Regions from separate parts of the Homo sapiens genome. Here region 2 is linked to region 1. The links come from fine-mapping of genetic effects on gene expression. A gene starts in region 1. The other region holds a variant in brackets. All regions are shown on one strand. Distances are between the middles of the regions. Region 1 holds the start of ZNF385A (zinc finger protein 385A). Region 2 holds the start of GPR84-AS1 (GPR84, ZNF385A, ITGA5 and GTSF1 antisense RNA 1).

What was found. PIP is the estimated chance that this variant, and not a neighbour inherited with it, causes the effect.
Region 2: its variant is fine-mapped to the expression of ZNF385A in whole blood (TOPMed, PIP above 0.99).

What each region holds. Positions count from the first base shown.
Region 1 is chr12:54,380,864-54,390,239 of GRCh38, reverse strand. It overlaps ZNF385A (zinc finger protein 385A), which reads left to right and starts at 5,507. Exons shown (of 7, transcript NM_015481.3): 1 at 5,507-5,812. The coding sequence starts at 5,726. The region is part of intron 1 of GPR84-AS1 (GPR84, ZNF385A, ITGA5 and GTSF1 antisense RNA 1); the gene reads right to left. RefSeq lists enhancers at 1,682-2,315, 2,316-2,950.
Region 2 is chr12:54,348,330-54,357,228 of GRCh38, reverse strand. It overlaps COPZ1 (coat protein complex I subunit zeta 1), which reads right to left. Exons shown (of 9, transcript NM_016057.3): 8 at 7,571-7,609; 9 at 5,383-6,753. The coding sequence ends at 6,706. It overlaps GPR84-AS1 (GPR84, ZNF385A, ITGA5 and GTSF1 antisense RNA 1), which reads right to left and starts at 3,538. Exons shown (of 4, transcript NR_120487.1): 1 at 3,333-3,538. It also overlaps a transcript of GPR84 not described here. RefSeq lists an enhancer at 1-285. The variant C/A (reference allele first, on the strand shown) is at 5,455.

The sequences.
Region 1 (9,376 bases):
GACCTCTGCCCTCCACCCTGGCTAGGCTGGTTTCTGGGATCTGTTTATGATGGGAGCCCCCCAACCAGGCCTAGACACCTGTGGTCTCCCTGCCCCCAACCGAGGACACCTGGCTCCATGCTGGTACCTGGAGGGCTTGACTGGCTCCTGCACTCATCCCTCTCCTGAGTCCCTCTGCTATTTGTCTTCCTTTCTTACCTTCTTTCATTTCACCGCCTATCCCTGTTGACTACCTATTGTCCTTCTGCCCTTCCTCCATCTCTTTTTCTCTCCTCCTCCTGTGTGTCCTCAGTCTCTCTCTGCTGTATGTCTCACCCCCTCCACCTGGCACTCCACCTATCTATTGAATGGATGACTGAACGAAGGCATGAATGGCTGGTTGCCTGCCTCCTTCTCAAGAGCCTCTCCAGCAGGGGAAGGTATTACCCACCCTTCTATGAATACCACCCTGATGCTAGAGTGACCCCCACCAGCACACATTGCACTCAGTCCCCCAGAGCACAGGACCCACATTCCTCCAACCTGTGTGATCTCTGCACCCTGGCTCCACCCTGGGCACAGCTCGAGAGGCAGCATCATGCTTGCCCAGAATAGGCTGGCATAAGCCGTGCTTTCCCTGGTCAGCAGGCCCTGAAAAGGACATCAAGGACCTGCTTGCTGGAGCCTGACCAAGACCCCAGCCACAGGAATAATTCCTGGGTCCACATTTTCTGAAACTGGACCACAGCCACAAGTGGTACCCTCACATCCCCCTGGAGGACACTGTAATTAATTCCCTCCTTATGCCAAGCCCACAGAGTGCGGGAAGTCTGGCAAAGCCCACATACCTTAGCCCTCTATGAGGAAGGAAGGAGAGAGGGAGGAAGCTGCCAGCCAGGGCTCCGGCCCCACCCCCAGGGACCCCCAGGGACCCTACAAAGGTTTCAGTTCTGAACACTTAGGTCCTCTGAATCCATGTGCATGGTAGCCGTGGAGGGACCCTAAACCCTCCCTGCCTAGCATGTGACACCCAGCCAGCCTGCTCAAGATCTAGAGTCTGGGCCCCAGGTTTAAGATGGCAGTTCTGGGCTCAGGTTCCCTGTTCTAAGCCTTTCTATACCATCCTTTCCAACTGAGTCCCTGGTGCAGTAAGGGTAGTGGCACATTGAAGGAGGCCCTTTCCAATCAAGTGGGGAAAGATTTCCCAGGGGCCTCCCTGCTCTCCCCTTCCCAGTCAACTACTCCCTCTAGGCCCAGTCCCCGCCCACATCCACCCTGGGGTTATTAGGCATGGTGTTTTGAGTAGTTGTTCATAATCATCCCCCTCGTCTCTTTCATCTTTGACTTCAAAGCCTTTCCAGTCCTCAGCCTGCCTCCTGCCAAGATGGGGGAATTGAGGCTGAAGGGGACATATACATGGAACTTGGTAAAAAAGACCCAGGGGTTCAAAGTTTTCCTCCCACCCCCGCCCTCAATTTTAGGCACTTCTGGGGAGGGAGGAAAGGCCAAAAGGCCTGAAGGGAAAAAGAGATTAATTAGAGAAGAGATCTGAATTTCTCCTGTGGCCCAAGTCTAATTCCCATTTTAACCCAGTACTGGCCCTGTGCTTTTTACCACCTTGGGCCCTAACTACTTGCAACCTTAACCCCAATATCTCTCTCTGATCTTAATCCCATTCTGGCCCAGTCTTCCAACCAACACTAACCCACAGCCCTATACTAACACCTTTCCTGGCTCCTATTCCTACTCAGATGCAGCCACTCCCTAAGCATTCTTTAACAACAGGGCTTGAGGCATGAGGCCCCACCTAAAATAGCCAAAGGGCTGGGGCTCCAGACCAGGCCCGAATTTCTAGGGAAGAGGGAAAGGAAAAGACCATTAGAGGAAGCCAGATGTGGCCTGGTTGAGGGTTAGTGCTGACAGCACAACTTGAGCAGGATCAAAGTGCCCAGGGCTAAGTAGGATGTGAAAATGGACAGATGGACATCCATCCAAGGGTCTGGAATTCACCCCCTCTAAATCATGTTGGGAGCTTTCTTTAATAAAGCATTTAGCAATTCTCGATGAAGCTGGGTGGGGCTCTATCTGCTGGAGGTAATTACTCTAATGAGCTTCCCTCAAGAGTGGCCTGCCCCAGCCAGGCCTCAGCTCCTCCCTGCCTTGCCTGACATGGGTGCCACACACACACACACACACACACACACACACACACACTTACACACACTTCAATTTGCTCTCCACCTCTTCTGCCAAACCTGCCTGGAGATTTTACCTAGCTAGAAGTCAAAAGCCCCACACTTCCTACTCAGTTCCTGCCTCCCCAGCCATTCCTATATTCCTGCCTTTTCCCCTCCTCCCCTTCCAGATCTACCCAGAAAAGTGTAGTGCTTGAAAGCCCTGTCTCTGGAACCAGACAGACAGGTTCACGTCACTCACTAACTGTGTGACCTTGGCCAAATAACTCTCCTTCTGAGCCAATTGTCATCATCTATAAGATGAGATTCATTTATTCAGCAAATATTTATTGAGTTCTCACTGTGACATGCCAGCATCTTACATGGATTTGTTCAATCCTGTCAACAACTTGGTGAGGCAAGTAGTGTTGTTTTCATTTGACAGATGAGAAATGAGACTGAGAGTCAGAGAACCTAGCTGCTCACCCAGCTAGTGAGTGGTGGGACCACCTACTGGGAGATTGTGTATGTAAAGTGCCTGGCCTATAGTAAAGCCTCAAAAAGCGGCAACTATTGTTAGCCTCAGAAAAAGAGAGGGAGAGGCCTAAGGCCTGGGCTACCTGAAACCAAGAGTCCTGTTTCTGCCCACCCGGCCCAAAAGCTGCCATCTGCCTCTCTCGCCACCTCAGAATGGAGTGGACCCAGGAATCTGGGAAGTAGATAGTTTGTCTCCAGTTGCCTGCCTGCTTCCTTCCCTCACTGTACCCTCATTTGACCCCTCTCTCCCACTCCACTCCCCTCCCCTCCCCCGCTCACCCAGGGCTCATGTCTGTGGAAAAGATGAGTTGTTAGCCATAGATAACTGAGTGGCTGCTACCTGTTTTCCTCTATCCCTCCTCTGGAGGAAAAATGAGGACTCCAACCTGAGGAAGTGCATGGAACCTGCTCTCCCCTTCCTCTCCTTGAACAAGATGGAAGCCTGTGCTCAGATCTCTGCTTCAGTTAAATTCAAGCCCTTTGGGAGTAAGGTAGCAGAGAAAGAATTTGCTGTAGAGTCCAGCAGATCTTGATCTATATCTCAGCTCTGATATTTACAGGCTGTGTGACATCAGCCAAGTTTGTTAACTACTCTGAGTCTCCATTTCCTCATAAGTCAAGTAGAAAAATATTATCAGCTACTTCATTGAATCATGGCTACTTCATTGAGCTACTTCAGAGGTTAAATATGATAATACTTGGAATTCATTACCTGGCACATAGTAGCCTCAAATTTTTTTCTGTGGCTTTTTCTGGAACTCTGCTGTCTCCTCTTAAGATGGCTTTGAGGAGTGGGAGCCTAGAGAAATCTAGAACCAGGGAAAGGGTCAAGCCAAGCTTCAGCCTCTGGTGCTCTGGGGCAGGGCAAGTGCCAGCCCAAAACCAGCTGCTGGGGGTGGATGCTGGGTGCAGGGGACTCTGGGAGCACTCAGGTTTCTCTCACCATTCCTGATGCCGCCTGGGGCTCATTAAGGCTGCCCTGGCCTTGGGTAACAGGCAGTAAGGGAGGGTGGGGCACAGAGGGCAGATGCCATAAGGGGACAGACCAGGAAGGGGAGGTGGTCAAGCTGCCCCATCCATCTATCTGTCCCTCTCTCTTCTCTTTTATCTTTCTCGCTGTCTCTGTTCTCTGTCTCTCGGTCTGTCTGCCCTAGTCTCTAGTTCTGTGTCCAGCTTTTCGGCAGTGTCTCTCTGTTTGTATGTCTGATTTCGCTCTCTGACATCTCTCCATTGTTCTCTATCCTTTTCTCTCTCAGTGTCACTGTCCGATTCCTCAGTCACCTATTCCTGCTGCTACCACTCTCCCATCCTCTCACTCACTTTCATCTGTCCGTCTCTCTGTGTGTGTGTGTGTGTGTGTGTGTGTGTGTGTGTGTCCTCTCTCCACCCCATCCCAACCTTGAAGGTGACAGAGGAGGGAATAGACACAAAGCATACAGACCCCCAGCTACTTAAGGGTCAAAGCCAAGGATCTTACCCTCTCCTTTAGCCCTGAGAATTCTGAAGCCCAAACTCCCAGTAGCCTTGACCCCCTGCTCTGTCTCAGTCACCCTGACCACCCATCCTGGCATGGGGTGAAAGAGACAGACCCCTCCAGACCTTTCTGGACCAGCTCCCAGCCCCCAGCTGTGCCTGAGCCCTCCCCACCCCCTCCCTGTCGCCTCAGATTCCCCTAATCCCTGCTCCCCTGCCCTCCCCTCTGCCCCACTTTTCCAGGATTCTGATTGGCTGATTCTACTGACTGGGCTGAGGGGGAGGGGGCTGGCAAGGGAGGGGGCAGAGGGCAGAACCAAGGGAAGGGGACGCTGTCAGGCCCAGGCCCCTGGGGGGCCAGGGCCAGGCCACTGCCTGGGGGCAGCAGGCATCAGAAACTAAAGGTATGAAAGGGGGTGGTGTCTGGAGGGAACAGGAAGGGATCCTGGAGACCTTCTGCTCTAGTAAAGTCAAGGGAGGACGGGCCAAGCACGCAGCCTCCTCGGTTTGCCTTTGTTCCTGGGAACCCCTGTTGCTGTCAGGGGGTTACTGGAGCAGTGAAGGGCGGCCAGAACTCCCCAGCTGGTGCACAGCAGGGTCGCAGAAGGGAGCTGGGCCAGTGGAAGCCCAGAAGGGCTCTGAGGACCTTTGGGCTGCCCCTTTGGAGTCTGGTGGAGTTCCTCCCGTGACTCTGAGAGGAGGAGGAGAAGGTTTCAGAGAAGGGTAGTTGAATGGCTGGCCTGGACTTTCATTTCCCCTTGGGGTCAGACCCAGGCATTCCCCGCCCATAGGCCAGGTCGAGGTTCCTCCTGCAGAACTGGACCTGTAGCTGAGCATTCCTGGTGAGACAAAAGGGCATGGGGGAAGACTGAGGAAGGTTGGGAGAAGGGGCTCTGAGAATGGCCTAGGTAGTTCACCTCCCAGAGCAAAAGCCACCCAACCCACTACCTACCCCCACAGATGTCAATAGTTAATAAAGAATTATAGTTAGAGCAAAATCTAATTCTAGGGCATCTGAGAGATTCAGCAGCCCCCCTCCAAATCTAAGTCTCAATATCCCCCTCTGGTCAGTAGGATGAATCACCCACTTGACTCTCTTCTTCCTGGGGCGATACCAAGCTTTAGGATCCCCTGGGGGAAAGCAAAACCAGAAGAAGAGGGTGGCCAGGGGCTTGAGGCTGGGAGTCCTGCTGGTTCAGCAGGCAGCCTGCAGAAAAGGTATGAGCTCTTACTGGGTCTGTAATGTGCCTAAGGAGTTTGGGGGAGGGAGGCTGGAAAAGGGGGAAGTGAAAACCACCCAGAAGGGAAGGACTGGTCTACACCCTCCCCCAGGCCCACAGGGCACTGTGCTCCATTGCTCTGGAGCCAGCAGGGGAAGTGTGTACACTATGTGCACTGAGGGTGACACTTCTGAGTGTGGGGGCCCTGGCTAGGGAGTGGGACTGGCAGGCTTGGGTGGGGTTCCCAAGCTTTAATCTTCCTACCCCACAGAATGTTTTCTCTGCCCTTCAGGCAGCCTGAGCCGGGCAGGGCCCCTGCCTCTGCTACGGCAGCCCCCGATCATGCAGCCCCCACTGGACCTCAAGCAGATCCTGCCCTTCCCACTCGAGCCAGCCCCTACCCTTGGCCTCTTCAGCAACTACAGCACCGTAAGTAGCAGCCTGCCTGCCTTCTCCATCCTCTTGTGACCCGACCTTTCTCTCTCAGACCCACCTCTGCCCTCTTCTTCTGTTTCTAATTCCTTATCTCCTCTTATGACCCCATCTTCCTTAATTCTAGTTAATTTTGAGTATTGTGGGCCATCTGGTACAGTGTTAACAACAATAATAATAGCTAATATTTGCTGAGGTCTTGCTACGGGCCAGACACTGTGCTAAGTGTTTTATATGAATTATCTCATTTAGTCCTACAGTGAATCGCCCTACCATCTAGAGAAGTAATGAGACTTAAATTGGTGGTAGTAACAGTAGGGAGGTAGGAGGGGTGTAGGTGCTGAATCCAGAAAGAGGGAATGAGCAGGAAAATAAGCATGCCTGTTTGTAAGTTTCACCTCTCTGCAGTCCACGGCTGGGTGGGTAGCATCAGTGGGATAGGGCTTGGAGGACTGGCAAGGTGGTCTAGATTTAATACAATATGAAATAAGGAGGTGCTGTCTATTCGTGTGTTTGTTTGTTTGTTTTTATGAGACGGAGTCTCACTCTGTTGCCCAGTCTGGTGTGCAGTGGCACGATCTTGGGTCACTGCAGCCTCCACCTCCCCAGTTCACCGATTCTCCTGCCTCGGCCTCCCAAGTAGCTGGGATTACAGGCGTGTGCCACCACACCGGGCTAATTTTTGTATTTTTAGTAGAGATGGGGTTTCACCATGTTGGCCAGGCTGGTCTCAAACTCCTGACCTCAGGTGATCCGCCTGCCTCAGCCTCCCAAAGTGCTGGGATTACAGGCATGAGCCACCACACCCAGCCGCCACTGTCTATTCTTGAGCAGGAGAGTGACTTGGTAAGAGCAGTGTTTGAGGAAGGTGAGTGGGGCAACTGGATGAAAGGGAACAGAGGCAGGAGGAAGGTGACAGTTAGGAGGCTGTCCTAGCAATGCAGGCCCGAGGGAAGCCTCAAAAGCCAGACGGGGCTGGTGGCAGTGGCAGTATGAGTGGAGAGAAAGGGAGAATGGGGGAGGTAATTTCAAGGAAATATTGACAGGCCATGGTGACCAACTGGTGTTTGGGGGTGGGGGAGAAGAGAAGGCATGAGTCAAGGATGACTCCAGCATTCAGGCCTTTGTGATTGGATGGAAGTCACCACTGACAGAGGCAGAGGGTTGGAAGAGGAAGCTGGTCTCCAGTGAGGATGATGCTTTAGCATGTGGTGCTAAAGCTAAAGCTTTATTTGTTTTGTTTTGTTTTGTTTTGTTTTTGAGATGTAGTCTTGCTCAATCTCTCAGGCTGGAGTGCAGTGGCATGATGATCTTGACTCATTGCAACCTCCGCCTCCTGGGTTCAAGCCATTCTCCTGCCTCACCCTCCTCAGTAGCTGGGATTACAGGCACGTACCACCATGCCCAGCTAATTTTTGTATTTTTAGTAGAGATGGGGTTTCACCATCTTGGCCAGGCTGGTCTGGAACCCTGACCTTGTGATCCACCTGCCTCAGCCTCCCAAGTGCTGGGATTACAGGCTTGAGCCACCGTGCCTGGCCTATTTGTTTTGTTTTAAAAAATAATAATAAATATTTTTTTTAAAAAAAAAAGGATATGGTGATTTGGCATACCAGTAGGACATTGAGCCCAAAATGTTCTACAGATAGTTAGAATCTGAAGCCTGGAAGGTGGGCTAGAGCTAAAAGTTTGGGGAAAGTCAGCCTTATTCAACTTAAATAACCCACATCAAACCATATTTAGCCATAAACATGTATTGAGCATTGACTACACACCAGGCACTGTAGCAGATGTTTCTATCTGCAATCTCATTTCACCTTCACAACAACCCAACAAGGTAGACATTATTATTCCATTTAACAAATAAGAAAGCAAAAACTAAGCCTCAGAAGGGTTTAGTAATTTATATAAGTTGACACAGTATGTGCCTAAGGTATGATTTGAACCCATTGCATCTGACTCTAAACAGACTTATCGTTATACCACAGCTGCTCCCCCCAAATGAGGGACCCAGACACACATTTGCATTGCACTTTTAAGTTTTCAGACTGGGCCAGGCGTGGTGGCTCACGCTTGTAATCCCAGCACTTTGGGAGGCCGAGGCAGGCGGATCACAAGGTCAGGAGATTGAGACCATCCTGGCTAACATGGTGAAACCCCGTCTCTACTAAAAAAAAAAACAACAAAAAACTAGCCGGGCGTGGTGGCGGGCGCCTGTACTCCCAGCTACTCCGGAGGCTGAGGCAGAAGAATGGCATGAACCTGGGAGGCAGAGGTTGCAGTGAGCCGAGATTGCGCCACTGCACTCCAGCCTGGGCAACAGAGTGAAACTCCATCTCAAAAAAAAAAAAAAATTCAATTTAACAAAAAAAAAATTTTTTTTGAGCACCTACTATGTGCTGGGTACTGTGCCTGGTGTCAGGGACACGGGACTCAGTTACCACACTTGGGGAGCTCATAGTTTGGTAGGAAGGATAACAAGTTAACAGTTACCCTATACAGTGTGAGAAGAGCTGTGTCAGAGGCATTTTGCTTGCATGGAAGCCCAAGTATCAAGAAAGACCTTCCTGGATGTGATGGGGCCTAAGGGACCAACCAGAGTTAGGCAGAAAAACAGAGAGCAGAGGAAAAAGGGATTTAACCTGGAGCAGGTGACATATAATTTGGGCTTTGAAGAATTATTGGCAAGATTTTTAAAGTAGTCTTAGAGAACATTCCAGACTGAAGTAAGTAGCATGAACAAGGGCTAGAAAGGAGCATTTGAGAAAGTGCAAGATTGGATGTGACTAGGTCATAAGATGGGGAGAAAACCTCCCCCCATCTAAACACCTGACTTACACTTGACCTCAGATCTTAGCAACCCCATCATTGTCCCCATTGTATAGATGAGGAAACACAGACGCAGAGAGGTTAAGTGAATTGTCCAAGGTCACAAAGCTACTTAGTTGATTGGATAATCCAGGGTTTCGACTCCTGCAGAGTTCATGGCTCCACTGCCTCTAGCAGAGGTATTTAAAGCGATGAGCATGGATAAGCTTGAAGAGTTCAGCAGGGTGTTGAACTGCATCCTGCATCTGATTGGCAGGATTTAAACTGATGTTCCAAAGTACTGGCTGTGTGATCTTAGGCAAGTTATTTAACCATTCTGAACCTCAGTTTTACTGACTGTAGAATGGGATAGTTTTTTTTTTTCTTTTTTTCTTTTTTTCTTTTTCTTTTTTTTTTTTTTGAGACAGAGTCTTACTCTGTCCCCCAGGCTGGAGTGCAGTGGCCCAATCTCCGCTCACTGCAACCTCAGCCTCTTGGGTTCAAGTAATTCTCCTTCCTCAGCCTCCAGAGTAGCTGTGGCTACAGGTGCACACCACCACGCCCAGCTAATTTTTGTATTTTTAGTAGAGACAGGGCTTCACCATGTTGGCCAGGATGGTCTCAATCTCTTGACCTTGTGATCCGCCCGACTCAGCCTCCCAAAGTGCTGGGATTACAAGCATGAGCCACTGCGCCCGGCCAATTTTTGTATTTTTAGTAGAGATGGAGTTTCGCCATGTTGCCCAGGCTGAG
Region 2 (8,899 bases), 33 kb after region 1:
GGGTCTAGACTGGCCCTTTAAGAGCCACTTAGGGTCAGAAAGCTTGGGCTACAGAGAGGGGAAGGAGCTGATGTCAGAAGACGGATGGGCAGCAAGATGGGGATTGATGCTAATGGGGGAGTTAAAGCTAAGTACCCAGACACTCAGAGGGCAGAACTGCAGATCTGTCTTCCTTATGCTCACCCCCTCTCCAAACCAAGGCTGTAAATCTGCCTCTTCAACTGGGGGAAGGGGGACTGAGGAAAAAAGACATGCTCTCTTCTCCCCTTTCCTGTTTCTTCCTTACTTGGTGTGCCCACACCACCCCCCTCCACCCAATTCTTTTGTCCTCTCCCATTCTCTTGCAATCCACAACCCCTTCCCACTAAAATTTCCAATTTTGGGCTTTGCATCAGAAATTGACAGAATGGTTTCAGCTTGCAGAGGAGTTTAAGAGAGACCACAAGTTTTCCCTCACCAGACCCGGGTGGGAATGCTTGGTGGGATTGTGGTGAGAAACTGGTAGATTGGTAACTCCCAGATCCCTCAGTTTCTCATCCTTCCACTGTCTTCTCACTCGGAGGTAACTCTAGCAGCCGTCTTCCAGGACAATAGGGTAAAGGCAAGAAGCAGGAAGTTGGGTGCCAGGGGCTGGAAGGGGCATGAAAGATTCTGAGCTGGGTTTGTGGAGGCTTCTGACACACTGAGATTCTAGAGGGGCTGGTGGTGGGCTTCCAAGGGCAGCTAGAGAAGCTGCGGGAGCTGTCCACTGAAAGATATACAGTCTGGTTTCTCGGAAACTCCTGGATCATACTGTTCCCTCTCCTCAAGCACACACCCTGTCTGCTGAGTAGAGACAATTTCGGGCCAATAGTGTATTTACTGTAAAGGACCAGCTGCTCCTTGTACCTCTCAGGAGGGAGTTGGGGATCTTAGGGAAGAAGACTTTTTCAGAGGGGCTAGAGCTAGAATTAGCCCTTGGTAAATTTCATTTCTTTCTTCTTTCTTCAGGTGAGACTGTTTCTCCCACCTTTCAGGACCCATAATCACCCCTATTTCCTTTCCTACTGGCAACCAGGGCCTGTTCTTGAGAAGTCCCTCTCTATATTAGAGGACAGTCCCTCTCATCTGTTGCAGTATTAGGCCTGAACTCTTTCCCAGCCCTGGAAACAGTTGGTGCCTGATTGCCTCTAGTTTCCAAATCCTCTTCCATATCCATAAAAGAATAACCCTAAGATATCAATCTCATCTCTTCCTTTCTCCCAGGTTTTCCTTCAGAGGCCTAAAATCACCTCAGGGTCATACTCTTCTCTGTTTTCCAAGTCTTCAGAGACAAGGGAGAGAGGAAAGCTGGAGTGGGAAAATGGGGTTGTGAGCAGCAGCCACTGGAACCCAGCCTTCCAGCCTCCCGGCATCCGGCCTAGTGCTCCCTCCTATCTGAAGGAGGTCAGCCATTGCCCTCAGCCCTGGTCTCTGGCTACTTCTCAATACTGGTGATAAATCCTGTCTTTGTCTCCCCTCTGACCCAGGCCCCAGGCAGGCTGGGGGTCAGAGCTGGGGGAGGGGTCAGTGTGGAGGAAGGGGAGATACAAGGAGAATGGGGAGAAGATAGACAGGAGCAGCTGGTGGGCAGGCATGGGGGGTGGGCAGTGAGGGGATGGGGCTCTTCATTCTACAGATCCTGGACATTCCAGCAGGCCTGCATTCCAAGTGAGAAAGCCAGGATTGCCGAGTTGTGGAAATACCTTTGGAATGGTCCCTTGAGCATCTGGAATACTGGGAGATGGGGGGCTAGTATGGGGTGCCTCAAGGAAAGAGACTGCTGAAAGAAGTGGAAAAATATTGTGGAAATCATCCTATCCATACCGCAGACCCCTGTGCAAATGTGCCATGCGCACACACACACACACACACACACACACTCACACACACAGGACTTATGGCATGAGGGAGCCCCGGAGAGCCAGGCTGCCCTTTGCCTGGCCCCTCCCTAGTGGCCTTCTCTTGCTATGACTTTCCTGTTTCCAACTCTATTCTTTTTCTCTGCTCCCAGTCTTGCCTTCCTTCTTTGTGTCTCTCATTCTCCCAGTTTGTTATTCTCACCGTCTCTCAGCCTCTGCCTCGGTCTCTCAATCACTTTTTCTCTCTCATTTTGTTTCTTTCCATCTTCTTGTCTCCCTCTCGCCCCTCCCCAAATTCTTTGGACGCTGCTCCATCTGTCCTGTTTCTGCCACTCTTCAGCCCAGCCATCCCTCCTACCTCAGTCCCACCTCAGAACCCTGTTCTGACCCAGAGGATACCTTTGGGAGTTAAGATTCCAAGAATAGATGGAAAGGAGAAAAGAGGCTCTGAATGAGTCCCTGCTTTAGTGGGAGGTCTGGGAATCATACTGGGTTATGATATGGCACGGAAGGGCAGGGTGGGCAGAAGGTGACCAGAAAGAGAAGCACAACTAAGGGAGGTAGGGTGAAATGAGAGGGAAGAGATTGAAAAAGAAAAGGCATAGGCCGGGCATGGTGGCTCACACCTATAATCCCAGCACTCTGGGAGGCCGAGGCGGGCGGATCACCAGAGGTCAGAAGTTGGAGACCAGCCTGGCCAACGTGGTGAAATCCTGTCTCTACTAAAAAATACAAAAAAAAAAAAAAAAAAAGCTAGGCATAGTGGCACATGCCTGTGATCCCAGCTACTCGGGAGGCTGAGGCAAGAGAATCGCTTGAACCCGGGAGGCGGAGGTTGCAGTGAGACAAGATTGCACCACTGCACTCCAGCCTGGGCAACAGAGCAAGACTCCATCTCAAACAAACAAACAAACAAACAAAAAAGGACACCAGGCCGGGTGCAGTGGCTCATGCCTGTAATCCCACCACTTTGGGAGGCCAAGGCAGGTGGATCACTTGAGCCCAGGAGTTCAAGACCAGCCTGGGCAATATGGCAAAACATCGTCTCTATAAAAAATACAAAAAGTTAGTCAGGCATGGTGGCACACACCTGTAGTCCCAGCTACTCAAGAGGCTGAGGTGGCGGGATCACCTGAGCCCAGGGAGGTCGAGACTGCAGTGACCTACGATCATGCCACTGCACTCCAGCCTGGGTGACAGAGTGAGACCCTGTCTCAAAAAAAAAAAAAAAAGAAAAGAGAAAAGAAAAGACACAGAATGACAAACACTAAAGAGAGAAGGGTGCGGACTTAAAGTTCTCTCTGTGTGTTTTGGGTCAGTGTGAAGGGGAGGAGCTGAGGGGCATCTCTTAAGTCATATTGAGATACAGGTTCAAAGACAAGGTCTGGAGGCTCAGCCAGAAAGATGTGATGTCCACCAGGCATCCACAATTCTGGACTCTCTGTCACCTACCTAGGAAGTTCTCAGAGACCTTTTTCTCCTCTCCAGACAGTCTTGGAGTGTTGGTTCCTTCCCCATTCACCTCCTCCACTCTGTCACCTCTCTTCCTCCCCCAGTGAGAATGACATCAGCTCTGGCTGCCCCTGTCCTCAGCCCTGTTGCTGATGTACTCTCCCATGGGTGAAACAGAAGGCTAATCACCTTTGCCCCATGCATTCACTCTCTAGTCCAGGAGCTGGAGTTTACATAGCCTAGCACTCTGGAGTAGGAGTGGGAGGAGGCTGTACCAAGAAGGTAGCTGCAGAACATTGTGGGAAAAGAGGGGGCATGGGCATCAGGGGGAGGGAGAGGGAGAGGAGTGGAGGAGGGCACTTGAGGAACAGAGGCAGCAGCAGTAAATCACCCTGTTGGGGGGCTCCCTCTGCCTGAGCTCAGTGGGGTAGGGAAAGAATAGACATAGGGGGGTGGGGGGAAGAATGGGGAATCGCCACATCTGGCAGGCAGGTGTCTGGCACTGTTCAGGCTGTAGCCACTTTCCCAGCCAAAGGGGAGGAAGGGGGAGAGGGGAGGAGGGGCCTCCCAGCATTCCCTGGGAAAGAGGGAAAGGCTCACAAACAGAAAGACAGAGGCTTACAGACAGAAAGAAACCAAGGAAAAGAAATAATCAGACCCTGCTCCCAGGCTCTGCTTCAGTCAGTGCTTGGGGATGTGTTTACTCATAGCCCTGAAAAAAAATTGCTGGCCAAAAGACTGGGTAGGCCAGGGCACCAAAGTTCCATTCATGCTGGAAAACAGAAGGCAGGAGTTTAACCCAGACCAGGCTGGGGAAACTGAAGCTCAGAGAATTCCAAGTTTGAGAACTGGATAGAACTCCACACCATCACAGATCACCACCACCCAGCTCTGGCACTGACACTGCCCCTCCCCCAGGTCAATGCTGTGTGGTGAGTAGGAAGATTAGGATGTTAAGGCTGAGTATTGCTTTTCCCCAGCTCAGACAGGCAAAGACAAAAGAAGTACCTAGTCTTTATCCAAACTCTTGCACTCCAACTTTCAATGCAGGACTGTTGGCAGACGTGGTACACCCAGGTATTTTTCTTTTCTACCTGCTGAGGAGTATCCCATGCACAGGTGCCCCATAGTTGTTGAGCTTAATTGTCAGGTTTTCACAGAAGAGCAGGCAAGACTGGAAAACTCTGGGTTTCATGTTCTGATGCTGGAGAGACTCTCCCCATTCCTGCTACCTTCCTTCCCCCATCCTTTCCCATCTGAGATACTAATTTGGTCTCCCTTGCTTAATCCTGGAATTGCAGGTCCATTTTATGAGCGGCAGAGGTGACTGAGGAGACCCTTCAAACTGCAGTGGAGAAGAGGCTCCCCACACTCCCCCCTCCTTAAAAATCCTGCAGAGGAAGGGGGAAAGAAAACCAAAGCATTCTGTCGCCGCGGCAACCATAAAACCCCCAGCTAAATCCATCTTGTGAGCTCACCGCCCCATTAAGATGCAGGGCCAGGCGCTGCGCCAGCCCAGCCACATTCATTTGTGCGAATAAAGGTGGAGGAGGGGGAGGGGAGCAGGCTCTGGAGGGACGGGGAAATGGCGAGAAGAGGTTATTTACACCACCGTCCTGACCTTCTGGAGCAGCGCTGGCTCCGATAAATAACCCGCTCAGCGCCGTTTCAGAGCAGGAGTGGGAGGTGCAGGAAGTGAGCAAGGGCTGGAGAAGAGCCCCCACGCAGGTGCGCGTCTCTGGGTTACTAATGGCTGAGGCGGGAGCAGGCAGCTGGCTTTGGGGGTGATGGGGGAAGAACTCAGTTCCCTGGGACTCCCACTGAGAAAATACCATCCCCACCCCACCCCTGGCGCCAATTTCCAGGCGAGGGGACGGAGAGATGCCAAGGAGGCAAACAGCCCCGTAAATTAGGGATGGGGGGGCACTGCTAGGAGTCTCTGAGGTAGGAGGGAAGAAATATTATAAGATGGGGAATGACGGGGGGCTGGAGGAACAGGAGTAGCTGCCAAAAAGAGAGGAAGAGAAACAGAAACATCACACAAAGGCAGTTTGGAAAAAATGTTTTATTCCTCTTTGCACAGAGCAGTTTATGAAGGTGGTTTTCTCCTGACTCCATGCAT[C/A]TTTTACACAAAGATGCCCCCTTAAATATGCCCCGTTATCTGCCCCACCTCAGTGCTGGAGAACTGGCAGTTAGTAAGTGGGGCAGAATGCTTAAGTCTCAGGAAGGTTTTTAAAGGCATTTTTGTGGGGAGGAAGTTCTGGGTCAAGGGGAAAGATTAGACCCAAGAGTGAGTATTCCATTCTCCATCTTCCTGGGGAAATCCAAACCCCAAAGGTTTTATGAAGAAAAGCACCTCTCTCAGCGACCTAGAGACAGGGAGAGCACAGACCTACTGCTTGGGTGTAAGGCTGAGGCAGAGAGAGGGTAGGTTGCAGCGACTGCAGACCCACGGCAGAGAGTAAATGCATGTCGGGGAGCTGAGGGGACAGAGACAGCCTAGAGGCCCAAGTCATAAGTTCCACTCCTTCCCCAGTTCTGAGTAGAAACTTTTCTTCCCAAGACTAGAATGGAGTTTTAGTTTTAGGAACTGGCTTTGCTCCAGGACACAGAGAAGACAAACCAGGCAACGATCCCACAGGTAGTAAGGGTGGACAGTTAAGGTAGCTAACTAAGAGATGGACACTCGCCACTGCAGTTTTGAAGCTATATGCCAGATCAGGGTACAGAATGCATTTTATATGCCCTGTTCAATACAATTTAAATCGCTGTTTCTTCCATGTTGTCCCTTCCCTATGAACTATTCCCAAAGCCTCTTCCAAGGCAGAGGACAGGGCAGTAAGAAGGAATGGAAGAAAACACTGAGGTCACTAAGTGGGGTTAGGGCTTAGATTGGATAAATCCCTACCCATCCCCGCCCCCACTCGTTCTATAGAAAAGAATTCTCTTTCTCTCTCCCCTTGCTGGGCTGTTGGGATGAGGGCCAGGTAGAGGCAAAGGGAGGAAAACACTCAGCACATTCTTTCTCCTACTTTAATCTGAAGTGTAGCTACAGCAAAGGGCACAGAATTTACAAAAATGTCAGGGCAAGGGAGCATGTGAGCATAATCCAGTCTAGAAAGAAAGAGGGTGCTTCCCCTGCCCTATTATCTAAATATGCTGGGAGCTTTACTCCCAGAACTGCAAGAAGAATGAAAAAGAATAGGAAGGGTGTAGGGGAGGTTGAGGGGGCAACCACAAACAGAATGGAGATTTAAGGATCCCTGTGATCCCCGAGATGACCCTGAGAGCATCGATTGGGGAACTAGATGAAAATTCACAGCAGACATGCAAATTTTTTGAAGAGGATGAAGAGCCAGGAACAGTGAGGTCTTCACCGAAGGAGTGACCACTTGATCTGTTCTTTGGCTGACTGCAGCACCTGCAGAGATAAGAGCAGCATTGAGGAAAGCTTGCTGACAGGGCAGGGTAAGGATGAGGGCTGGGGATCTCCTTCCCCTCACTTGTCTTCCCTGTCCTTAGAAGAATGGAGAATAGAAAATCCCCAAGGGTAAAGAGATGGGAAGAAGCTCTCTAAGGCCCTAGCAGATTGTTTGGAAAATTCCAAAAAAATTCAAACCCACTGAGGGGATGAAGAGAGAAGAGGTATACCTGGTATAAAAGAAAAAAAAAAAGGGAGTTACTGGACATATGTTAAAAGGGGCGGCGGGCAGGGGGCGGGTAACAAATCCAGATGGACTTCTTGGTGAGAATTCCAAGTGGGTAGAAAACGGAACCCCTCCCTTCCCCCTACATCAGGTAGACAATCTATCTGCAGTCAAGGTAGCAAGATGGATCTGCAAAACCTGCATATTCTAGAATATGCATTTCCAGCTTAGCCCTCAATTGAATAATAAGAGAAAGAGAGTGTGTGTGCACAAATGCACACAGACCATCTGCTTAAGGCAAGCCTCTGCTGGGGAATAAATCACTGAATGAGGCATCAGGCAGGCAGGGAGGGTTTGAAGGGTACAGAGCAAGGCTGACAGCCACTGCTCACAGGTAACTGAGAAAGGAGTTGGAAGTAGGGGTAGGGAGTGGCTGGCTGTATGAGTCCCAGTTCTCTGGAATAAGAGGGAGCCAAGGAAGATGTGTCTTGAGTCTCTAGTTTCACTCAGATTTGAGAGGTATGGGTGGAATGCTGTTCTAGCCTCTTTAGTGACCCAGTCCATCTGGAAAGGAAGAAGGGAGAGTCATACCTGAGACACGGTCTGCTCCGTAAGGGGGACATCTTCACCCTATGGCACAGAGATACAAGCATTTAGTGTGGGAGAAAGCTGGAGTAAGACCTGATTGGAGTCTGGTATTAGAGAAGAAAAAAGTGATCCTTTAAACTGAAACAAAGGGCAGATGCACTGAACTTCTCAGTCCCTTCTAGGGACTAGTACAGCTACAATTTTACTTGGCCAGAGGGACTATGAACAAAAAAGGGTCATTTCATCCAGCTTCCATTTTAAGGCAGGAGGACTTCTTAAAAGATTTAACTCCATTCAGAGTAACCAGCAGGTTATCTGATCCTCAACTCCCTTAACGTGGGGGTGGAGGACCTGATTCCCTAGTCAGAAAAGGCCTTTTCTGAATATCAGTATCACTAGGGAAAGGATGAGGGGGAGCCAGGAGTGGTTTAATGGATCCCGCAAAGCCTGATGGGTAACGACAGCATGTTAATTTGAAGAAATAAACTGCTGCAACAGCAGCCTAAGAAGACAAAGCGGGGAGTTGATGGGGGGGACCCTCTCTCTTGCCACACAGAGACATATGTTAGAGGAGAAGATTAAACTATGCAAATGGAGCCCACAGCAGTTAAGAGAGATTTCCCATTACCAAGCACTGTCAGCCTTCACTCTGTGGAGGTCAGAGCCAGGACATTCTGTGAATGGGGAGATTTGCTTTGCTCAGACATCTTTGCACCCGTATAATTTGTTGGTGGGCTCTCTCTGCATCCACCATTATCTCCTCAGCTGACCTGGGGCCTTCTATGGTTAACTCAGAGGCCCCTTTCTGATATCACCAGCACCAAAGAGGACTGAGGTTCTGGCAAATAAGTACTTCCTAATGGAGAGGTACCATCCTCAGTTATGTAACACTTTATTATTATTATTTTATTTATTTATTTTTTTTGAGACAGAGTCTCACTCTGTCGCCCAGGCTGGAGTGCAGTGGTGCAATCTCGGCTCACTGCAACCTCCACCTCCCGGGCTCAAGCAATTCTCCTGCCTTAGCCTCCTGAGTAGCTGGGATCACAGGCACGCACCACCATGCCCAGCTAATTTTTGTGTCTTTAGTAGAGACAGGGTTTCACCATGTTGGTCAGGCTGGTCTCGAACTCCTGACCTTGTGATCCGCCAGCCTCGGCTTCCCAAAGTGCTGGGATTACAGGTGTGAGCCACCACGCTCAGTCCTATGTAACACTTTAAAAGACAAAACAGACACTCCTCTGCCTCAGATGACTGGATCCATCTCCAAGAAGGGAATAAGCCAACTTCAAGTTGCTTTATAATTTCAAAACCATAAATATTAAAGTTTAT